Homo sapiens: one gene and its partners. The protein of the gene in region 1 interacts with the protein of each later gene in a biochemical or structural test. Each region holds a gene or a part of one and is shown in the gene's direction. Other genes may lie near its edges. The genes, in order: MAPT, UBE2W and CSNK1A1.

Region 1 (3,651 bases):
TCCTGAGGGCCGTCACTGTCTGCCGTGCAGAGCCCTTCCTCCCACGGGGGCCTACCTCACCTGTGCCAAGGGCTTGTCTGTGGTCAGTGACCTGGATAGATCTGAATGGGGCTTCTTTTTCGAGGAGTCTTATGGCAGGTCTCTCAGTAAAGACTCCATTCTTGATGATCACACATTTTGGATTTTCCAAATCTGTCAGAGAATGGGCTTGAGGCGGGGTTTGTGGGCACTAGTTTCACTGGTTTCATTTACCAAAAAGGGGAGCAGAAGTCAAGTATGGTGGCTCATCCCTGTAATCCCAGAGGCAAGAGAATTGCTTGAGCCCAGGAGTTCGAGACCAGCCTGAGCAACATAAGGAGACCCCGTCTCCACAAAAATGAAAAATAACATTTTAGTCAGACGTGGTGGCATGCATCTGTGGTCCCAGCTGCTTGGGAGGGTGAGATGGGAGGGTTGTTTGAGCCCTGGAGTTAAAGTTGCAATGAGCTGTGATTGCACCACTGCACTCTAGCCTGGGTGACAGAACGAGACCCTGTCTCAAAAAAAAAAAAAAAGAAAGAAAGAAAGGAAAAAAAAAACTCATGCCTGTAATCCCAGCACTTTGGGGACCGGGGTGGGCAGATCACGAGGTCAGGAGATCAAGACTATCCTGGCCAACATGGTGAAACCCCGTTTCTACTAAAAATACAAAAATTAGCCAGGTGTGGTGGCACGTGCCTGTAATCCCAGTTACTCGGGAGGCTGAGGCAGGAGAATCGCTTGAACCAGGGAGTCAGAGGTTGCAGTGAGCTGAGATCGTGCCACTGTACTCCAGCCTGGGCGACAGAGTGAGACTCTGTCTCAAACCAAAAAAAAGGGGTGGGGGGCGGGGGCAGGAGAACAGTGAGAGGTAGGGAGAGGAAAGGGGATTCTCGCTACACCCAAACCAGATACCATCTAGAGGCTAGAATCTTTGGGAGGCTCAAATTCCCTAGAAAGCAGGAGAAGCTTCTGTAGCCCTCCCGCTTTCCCAGTAGATTAAGCCCAGGGCGGCTCCAGATGTGTGACATGCTCTGTGCCCAACCAGAGCCCATCATAGGCAGAGGAATAACACCCACACCAGAAGGGCCCTCGGAGGTCACCACGTCCAAGAACCCTCTTTACAGATGAGGAAACTGAGGCCCAGAGAGGGGAGAGCCACCTAGCGAGCTGGTGGCGGCTAGACCAGGAGAGCTGTCATTCCAAGCAAGCAAAGGCAACGAGACGAGCCCAGAGCTGTGCTCCCATCTCTTTGTTAGGGGGCCTGGGATGCCCTCTCAGTGTCATTTTGTCCAGGATGATGCTCCCTCTCTTAAGCGATTAATGCGCCCTTGCTAACCTTTTGCTATCGCTGCCTCTTCAAACCAGAGGAGTTGAGAGTTCCGGGCCGGCAGAGGAAGGCGCCTGAAAGGCCCCTGGCCAATGAGATTAGCGCCCACGTCCAGCCTGGACCCTGCGGAGAGGCCTCTGGGGTCTCTGGGCCGTGCCTCGGGGAGAAAGAGCCAGAAGCTCCCGTCCCGCTGACCGCGAGCCTTCCTCAGCACCGTCCCGTTTGCCCAGCGCCTCCTCCAACAGGAGGCCCTCAGGAGCCCTCCCTGGAGTGGGGACAAAAAGGCGGGGACTGGGCCGAGAAGGGTCCGGCCTTTCCGAAGCCCGCCACCACTGCGTATCTCCACACAGAGCCTGAAAGTGGTAAGGTGGTCCAGGAAGGCTTCCTCCGAGAGCCAGGCCCCCCAGGTCTGAGCCACCAGCTCATGTCCGGCATGCCTGGGGCTCCCCTCCTGCCTGAGGGCCCCAGAGAGGCCACACGCCAACCTTCGGGGACAGGACCTGAGGACACAGAGGGCGGCCGCCACGCCCCTGAGCTGCTCAAGCACCAGCTTCTAGGAGACCTGCACCAGGAGGGGCCGCCGCTGAAGGGGGCAGGGGGCAAAGAGAGGCCGGGGAGCAAGGAGGAGGTGGATGAAGACCGCGACGTCGATGAGTCCTCCCCCCAAGACTCCCCTCCCTCCAAGGCCTCCCCAGCCCAAGATGGGCGGCCTCCCCAGACAGCCGCCAGAGAAGCCACCAGCATCCCAGGCTTCCCAGCGGAGGGTGCCATCCCCCTCCCTGTGGATTTCCTCTCCAAAGTTTCCACAGAGATCCCAGCCTCAGAGCCCGACGGGCCCAGTGTAGGGCGGGCCAAAGGGCAGGATGCCCCCCTGGAGTTCACGTTTCACGTGGAAATCACACCCAACGTGCAGAAGGAGCAGGCGCACTCGGAGGAGCATTTGGGAAGGGCTGCATTTCCAGGGGCCCCTGGAGAGGGGCCAGAGGCCCGGGGCCCCTCTTTGGGAGAGGACACAAAAGAGGCTGACCTTCCAGAGCCCTCTGAAAAGCAGCCTGCTGCTGCTCCGCGGGGGAAGCCCGTCAGCCGGGTCCCTCAACTCAAAGGTCTGTGTCTTGAGCTTCTTCGCTCCTTCCCTGGGGACCTCCCAGGCCTCCCAGGCTGCGGGCACTGCCACTGAGCTTCCAGGCCTCCCGACTCCTGCTGCTTCTGACGTTCCTAGGACGCCACTAAATCGACACCTGGGTGCAGCTGCTCCACTCCCTCGGCCTCCTCCCGTGCTCAGGCTGTGGCCGCACGCGCCCCTCACGCTTGCCCGCCACTCTGCATGTCACCAGCACCCCCGCTCCGTGCTACCCACCTTGTTTGACTCTCTGGCCACTTGATTTGTCCACAACGGCCCATCAGCCCACAGGAGGTTTGGTGGGTGCCTTCCACCGACAGGATGACGGGTGCCCTCATGGTGTCTAGAACTCTCCAACCCTCCCATGTAGGCATAAGCAGCCCCACTTTGCAGATGAGGAAACGGAGGCTCAGAGAAGTACAGTAACTTGCCGAAGGCCAATGAGTAGTAAGTGACAGAGCCAGGTTTGGGATCCAGGTAGGTTGTCTCTGAAAGACACGCCTGTCCTGCATCCCACAACGCCTCCCAGGAGGTGCTGGAGTGTGGACGCCTAACACAGAGATGTGCAGGGCACACACAGCAGGTGACACACACAGCATCCAGAGGTGGCCCAGAGCTCATGCTGTGCCTTTGGCCCAGTGCCCTGCCCCCACCCACTCTGCCTTGTGGCAGGAAGACAAGGAGCAGACACAAGATCTCCCTGGTCCACATGCCACCACCTCCCTCTGCAGAGGACAAGGGGATCCTCATGCTGGCATTGGAGGGGGTTGAGCAGGGCCCACCTTGAGCCCTCAGGAGCACGACCACAGCAGCCCTGCAGGGAGGGATTGGTGGGAGGAGAGTCCCAAGTATCAGGGAGAGGAGAGTTGGTGTCCCACAGGAGACCTCAGAGCCACAAGGCGAGCTTGTTCATAAATTTGGGACCCTTAGCATTTCACAGTTATTTGCAGAGCCCAGAAATGGATGTTACTGAAGCTCACAGTTGCAAGCATCTGTTAAATTTTTATTAGATTTTACTTTTAGGGAAAACTTTGAAATGCTATAAAGAAGCCTGTGTTTAAAAGTTAAGACAGAGGCTGGGGGCGATGGCTCACGCCTGTAATCTCAGCACTTTGGGAGGCCAAGGCAGGTGGATCATTTGAGGTTAGGAGTTCGAGACCAGCCTGGCCAACATGGTGAGACC
Region 2 (3,651 bases), on another chromosome or scaffold:
ATAAGAAAGGAATTTCGAAGATTAAGAAGGACCTAATATATAAAGAGATAGTTTTTTGTTTTGTATGCAGCTTTTGCATTGCATTTAATTTACCATGTATTGACTGAGTCAGGAATGTGCTAGGTTTTTTACGTATGTAGGGTCATTTATCTTTCCAACAACACTATGAGGTGATTATCTTCTGTTTTATTATTGAGGTAGTTAAAACTGGAGAGATAACATAACTTGTTCACACAATGAGTTAAGATTAACTATAACTGCGACTTCAGTATAACTTCAGTTATAACTGTCTAATTTCACTATAAAATATTGTCTCTTGGGTCTGTGGTCGTATCTTTTATTACCATGTATGGTACTCAGCGTGCATTCTTAAAATGAATAGCCATGCTCTTAAGAGTCTGTATACTGTAGCTGATTTCTTTTAGAGAATAGGTACATTTATTATTTTACATAATCCAAGGTTCATAGTATGCGTGGTGATGACTAGAATCCCAACACTGTATTTTCTATCTTCCTTTTGTTTTCTTGTATTTTAAATACAAGAAAGTTTAATAACTGAAAAGTTCAAGAGAATTGCCCAGGTGTACAAGAATTATAAGTGACAGAGCTATAATTAGGAACACATTGTTAATGACTTCAATTCACTTTTGCTTCTAATGCTGCCCTGTTATCTTTGCTGTCATTATCCCTTATTCTTCCCATCTTAAAGAAAATAACAAGAATAGTATATAAACTGTAAATAACACATTTATGTTTATGATTGTTATATATGAAAACAAAGGCTTGCATAGATGGCATAGAAATGGGCTTTATTAAACAATTGAAACATAGTGAGAGATAAAGGAAAGTCACCACAAAGCCTTGCTTAATCATCAGAGTAAGTGGACTGATGTCAATTTAGCTCCCCTTGCCCTGTTAATCTTCTCTAGGATGTTGATGAAAAAAATAAGTCTGACAGCTACGGTTCTCTGTGGTCATTGTCTATACGTATTTCTCCATGGCTTCCACCAGTAATAATCAGAGGCAGTTGCTTTGTTTGATGTTATGTATAGAATACGTAATATCAGCATTGTAGAAATGGTACTTTGAAAAAATAAGGTAGTATAAATCAATTAGGAGGAGCACAGGCTTTGGTGTCAGTGCACCTTAGTTTGAGGTCTGTTTGTTTGTTTATTTTGAGACAGTCTTGCCCTGTAGCCCAGGCTGGAGTGCAGTGGCATGATCTTGGCTCACTGCAACCTCTGCCTCCCGGGTTCAAGCGATTCTCCTGCCTCAGCCTCCTGAGTAGCTGGGATTACAGGTGCACACCACCATGCCCGGCTAATTTTTGTATTTTTAGTAGAGACCGGTTTCACCATGTTGGTCAGGCTGGTCTTAAACTCCTGACCTCGTGATCTGCCTGTCTTGGCCTCCCAAAGTTCTGGGATTACAGGTGTGAGCCACCACACCCGGCCTTGGGTTTTATTTAGTTTGCTTTTTTAGACCTGGCTCTGTCTTTTGCTAGCTGTCTGACCTTGATCTGGTTATTTCACCGCTGAGTGTCAGAGAAGGGGATAGGTCATGAGAATTAACAGTAAGAGAGTTATTGGGAGGCTGGCATGTGCTGTTACACATAACCAACTCTTGTCCTAGTGCTTAGTGTATAGGAAGTACTTGGTGTCCTCTTTTCTCCTCCTTACCCCAGTCTCTATTATCTTAAGTTTTTAATTTGCCTTTTCTATTCTAGGTGGATTGTAGACATGGAAGGTGCACCAGGTACCTTATATGAAGGGGAAAAATTTCAACTTCTATTTAAATTTAGTAGTCGATATCCTTTTGACTCTCCTCAGGTAATTGCCTTGCTTTAAATTTTTTTTTTTGTATTTTTAGATAGCTAAATGCCAGAGATGTTTGACTCAGTAAAAACATATAAATCAGTTATACGTATGTAGATGGATTTGTTATTTCATTATCTTATTTGTCATATAATCAAGATATGAACATTACACTTTATTGGGATTAGGGCTTTACTGCATTTTGCTTCTAAAATTGTTTCATTTGTTGCTTATCCATAAATGCTAACAGAAAAGGGAATAGAAATCTAACCAGGCCTCTAGGCCAGGGGTCCCCAACCCCCATGCTGTGGACTAGTACTGGTCCATGGCCTGTTAGGAGTCGGGCCACACAGGAGGTGAGCAGCATTACTGCCTGAGCTCTGCCTCCTGTCAGATCAGCGATGGCATTAGATTCTCATAGGAGTACGAGCCTTATTGTGAACTGCACATGTGAGGGATCTAGATAGCACGCTCTTTATGAGAATCTAATGCCTGATGATCTGAGATGGAACAGTTCCATCCCAAAACCATCATCCAATCCCCAACCCCATCCATGGAAAAATTGTCTTCCATCACACCGGTCCCTTGTGTCAAAAAGATTGGGGACCACTGCTCTAGGCCATCGGAGAAGTTGACATTTTGGAATAACTGGAGGCACTTCTCCTAGGTCAGATGGTAGAATCACATGGTGAAGAGAAAAGTTCTCTGTTGGAAGGAGTACTATGATTTTGCATTGACATGCTGTCCTTGCAGCCTTTTAGTACAGGAAGGGCAGAGTACATCATCAGATGTTAAATATCTAAACATCAGCACAAAGTCTGATTATTATAATTTGATGCCCAGTGAGTTTAGTTAATAGCTTAATACTTAGACAAGGGATAATGGTGGTAGAGAAATGTTTTTTGAGAGCTATTTAACTATAGTAAATGATTAATCAGGTTAGAGAAAGGAAGACTCTAGGATGACTTCCAGGTTTCTGGCTTGGTAAGATAAGTAAATGAGTTACTATAATTACTTATTCTTCAGAGAATTATAACAAAGCACTTCATTTTTAAAATTTGAGGCTTGTGAGATCCGTTGGCTAAAATGGTAAGACATGATGCCAGCTCTCTCTAGTATTGCTAGCAAATGAGCTATTCTGGAAAATACAACCAAATACCTGAAATATTTCCCAGATACTGAAAATTTTGCTTGTTGGGTGCTGAAATGTACTATTTGGAGGAAAATCATATTTCATTGTCACTTTAAACAATATACCAAACACAGCTTAATCTTTTCTTAGTTATGTAAGAGAAGAGATAAAGTCAGTTATTGTATCATGCTATAAGTAAAGAGATAATTGTTTTAAAGCATAGATTTAAATGGATACTGACTCCTTAAGTTCTAAAATTTTCATATGAGCAGAAAACTACCAAGACTTTTAGGACTTATTTTTATCATTTTCATAAAAGTTAAAGTGAAAGGGTATGTGCTATTGTGACCTCTAGATGTCTACAATAAGCATTTGTAGACTATAATAAAAAGAACAAACATCTTCTCTCCAGAAGATTGTCATCACTTTTGTTGCTTTCTGGCTGGCCAGCATCATTTCTGACTGTAAATGTGTGGAGACAACAGGATCTCAGTCTGTTTTCATCATCAGCCTATTTGTCTACCTTCAACTAAGTTCAATGATGGTATGGGAAGGAAGAATATTTCACACCAATTCAAAAGCTTTTGACTAGGGAGATATTGGGGGAAGGCTTACTCTGGGAGCTTACAGATTTTTCACCAGAGGAAAATAATATTTCTGTAAGCATGAAACCAAGTCAAAAATGTGTTCTCTAAACTCTTTCCT
Region 3 (3,651 bases), on another chromosome or scaffold:
GCTGGAATTGCAGAGCTGCACTACTACGCCTGGCTAATTTTTGTATTTTTAGTAGAGCTGAGGTTTTGCCGTGTTGGCCAGGCTGGTCTCCACCTCCTGACCTCAGGTGATCCACCTGCCTCAGCCTCCCAAAGTGCTGGGATTATAGGCGTGAGCCACCGGGCCCAGCCTGTTAGCCCCTTTTTCTATTCCAGTTTGTATTTTTCATGTCTTGAATTAAGGACTGGGTTGCATAGTCTTTACATGGAAACAACTCAAATAAAACTGTCCTTAAAAAGAGTTCCAGCCAGGCGTGGTGGCTCACGCCTGTAATCCAAGCACTTTGGGAGGCCAAGGCAGGCAGGTTACTTTAAGTCAGGAGTTCAACACCAGCCTGGCCAACGTGGTGAAACCTCGTCTCTACTAAAAATACAAAAATTAGCTGAGCATGGTGGCACGTGCCTGTAATCCCAGCTACTCGGGAGGCTGAAGCAGGAGAATAGCTTGAACCCGGGAGTCGGAGGTTGCAGTAAGCTGAGATGGCGCCACTGCACTCCAGCCTGGTGACAGAGCGAGACGCCATCTCAAAAAAACACAAAAAAACACAACAAAAAAAAAAACAAAGTTCCAATGCTGATTTACAGTTTTAATGGAGAATTGAGTGATAAAATGTGCTATTGGTTGTAAATGAGCAAGTAAATCATTTGGAAGAAAGTTGCAAATTTATCTTATGAGGTGAAGATTAAATCTGAGATGATATAGATTTGAAGTTTTTAAATCATTCTTGCCTTTAAAAAAAAAACCTACTATGTGGGAAAATAAGGCCCCTCACCCCTGATTTGCTTTCCATTACTATAGTTTTTCCTAGAATTTCATATAAATGGAATCATACGATATGAGGTCATTTGTGTCTGGCACTTTTCACTTAACATAATGTTTTTGAGATTCATCTATGTTGGGAGATTTTATAAATTTCACAAATCAGGTTAAATTTAATGTATTTGAAATCAGTTTCAAAAAGCATTAAGCATTGTCATTTTTCAGTGCTAAACCCAAGTACAGTACATGTCCTTTTATCTGGTAGCTTTTATTTAAGACCTGATACAGACCCATAAGGGCAATGAGTAATGTACTGAATAAGCACATGAATAAATTAACTTCTGAGCAGAATTATAGTAATAGGTGCCTATTATAAGGTGGTGAGTGCAGAGAGAGTTATGGTAGTTATAAGCTGTCTGTGGGTGAGGCTAAACAGATTAACCTGACTTTCAAGTTAAGGCTTCCTGAGAGATGGGATTTCAGGATCTGGCTCTAAGGAAGAAAGCTTGGTGAACTGGTTTGGTAAGGCATCCAAGAATAGAGTGTGGCTTCTGGGTGTAGTCTCTAAAGGAGAACACAGTAATTGGATGAGAGTGTGGAAAGGGTAAATTTGCTTTAGGAGTGGTAGGGTCAGGTACATGGAAACAAAAGTGGTTCATTGGTTTTAAAGTGAAATGTAAAAAAAAAACTGTTTCCACTGAAGCAAAAAGGATAAAGATTTATGTAAACATTCTTTATTTGGGTAGCAGCATCTTCCCATCCCCCTCAGTTTGTTCCCCACTATTTCTGTATCACCTATACATGGTACATACTTAATAAATATTTACTCGGAAAGTATTGAATTAAGTTGACTATTTAGTGTTAGCTAGATAAAAGTTATGTGTTATCTATTGTTTTAGAAGTATTGTCACTAATTTAAAAAATTTAGATTTTGCTGCCTTTATCCTTCATATACAAATTTGTTCAATCCCTTCCCTATGTTTTCTGTTACAAAATTCCCTATAGGATTTGCTTTTTTTTTTTTTGACATGGAGTCTCACTCTGTTACCAGGCTGGAGTGCAGTGGTACAGTCTTGGCTCACTGCAGCCTCCACCTCCTGGGTTCAAGCAATTCTCCTGCCTTAGCCTCCTGAGTAGCTGGGACTACAGGCACGTGCTGCCACGCCCAGCTAATTTTTGTATTTTTAATAGAGATGGGGCTTTACCATTTTGGCCAGGATGGTCTCCATCTCTTGACCTCGTGATCTGCTCGCCTCGGCCTCTCAAAGTGCTTGGATTACAGGCATGAGCCACCGCACCCAGCCAGGATTTTCTTTAAGATACTTTGGTATATCTTACAACAGAGACTGAAAATTACCTGGCCTGCGTAGATGACCTGCTGAATCAGGTCCTTCCTGTGTAATTTGAGAGACCTATTGTTAAGAAGCATAGCATCCTGAGTAAAGAGCAAGGATAAGCCGGGCGCCATGGCTCACGCCTGTAATCCCAGCACTTTGGGAGGCCGAGGTGGGCAGATTGCCTGAGCCCAGGAGTTGGAGACCAGCCTGGGTAGTAGAGACAGGTGAAACCCTGTCTCTACTAAAATACAAAAAAAAAAAAAATTAGCCTGGTGTGGTGGCGTGCGCCTGTAGTGCCAGCTACTCAGGAGGCTGAGGCAGGAGAATTGCTTGAACATGGGAGGCGGAGGTTGCAGTGAGCCAAGATCGTGCCACTGCACTCCAGCCTGGGCGACAGAATGAGGCTCCGTATCAAAAAAAAAAAAGCAAGGATAAGAGAATGGCATCCATTTTCTTGATATTTTAAGAAATGAAGCTTCCGGTTCTAGGCACTTGGAGAGCCGCGGCTTAAGGTACAGACATGGCCAAGTCCACGAACCACACCACACACAACCAGTCCTGAAAATGGCACAGAAATGGTGGGCTCCAGGTTCCTGAGGAACATGCACTTTGCCAAGAAGCACAAGAAGGGCCTAAAGAAGATGCAGGCCAACAATGCCAAGGCAATGAGTGCACTTGCTGAGGCTAGCAGGGCCCTCGTAAAGCCCAAGGAGGTTAAGCCCAAGATCCCAAAGGGTGTCAGCTGCGAACTCGATTGACTTGCCTACATTGTCCACCCCAAGCTTGGGAAGTGTGCTTGTGTCCGCATTGCCAAGGGGCTCAGACTGTGTGGGCCAAAGGCCAAGGATCAACCAAGGCCCAGGCTGCAGCTCCAGCTTCAGTTCCAGCTCAGGCTCCTCCCAAAGGCTCTCAGGCCCCTACAAAGGCTTCGGAGTAGGTATCTCTGTCTGCCAACGTGAGGACAGAAGGACTGATGCAACCCCCCTGGGCTGCCGTCTTTATGGGGCTGGGGTCCTCCTGTGCTATTAGTACAAATAAACCTGAGGCAGGGGAAAAAAAAAGAAAGAAAATTCTTGGACCTTGTCAATTAATATGTGAGAGCTCACTTAAAATTACAGTTGACCCTTGAACAGTGCTGGGGTTAGGGGCACTGAACCCCAGCCCACTCCCACTGTGCCCCACAGTCAGGAATCCAAGTGTAACTTTTTTTTTTTTTTTGAGATGGAGTCTTGCTCTGTCACCCAGGCTGGAGTGCAATGGTGTGATCTTGGCTCACTGCAACCTCTGCCTCCCAGGTTCATGGGATTACAGGCGCGCCGCCACACCCAGCTAATTTTTGTATTTTTAGTAGAGACGGGGTTTCACAGTGATGGCCAGGCTAGTCTCAAACTCCTGACCTCAGATGATCCACCCACCTCGGCCCGCCAAAGTGCTGGGATTACAGGCATGGACCACTGCACCTGGCCCCAAGTATAACTTGACTCCCCAAAAGCTTAACTACTACTAGCCTACTGTT

What was found.
Region 2: the proteins of MAPT (region 1) and UBE2W are reported together in a solved structure, tested with the Homo sapiens proteins (2 studies listed by BioGRID, with this or other methods).
Region 3: of the proteins of MAPT (region 1) and CSNK1A1, one has a biochemical effect on the other in vitro, tested with the Homo sapiens proteins (2 studies listed by BioGRID).

What each region holds. Positions count from the first base shown.
Region 1 is NC_000017.11:45,981,480-45,985,130, forward strand, and holds part of MAPT (microtubule-associated protein tau), read left to right. Parts: intron 1-1,386; coding exon 1,387-2,451; intron 2,452-3,651. UniProt on the Homo sapiens protein: Promotes microtubule assembly and stability, and might be involved in the establishment and maintenance of neuronal polarity.
Region 2 is NC_000008.11:73,823,325-73,826,975, reverse strand, and holds part of UBE2W (ubiquitin-conjugating enzyme E2 W), read left to right. Parts: intron 1-1,726; coding exon 1,727-1,829; intron 1,830-3,651. UniProt on the Homo sapiens protein: Accepts ubiquitin from the E1 complex and catalyzes its covalent attachment to other proteins.
Region 3 is NC_000005.10:149,544,804-149,548,454, reverse strand, and holds part of CSNK1A1 (casein kinase I isoform alpha), read left to right. Parts: intron 1-2,610; exon of another isoform or gene 2,611-3,185; intron 3,186-3,651.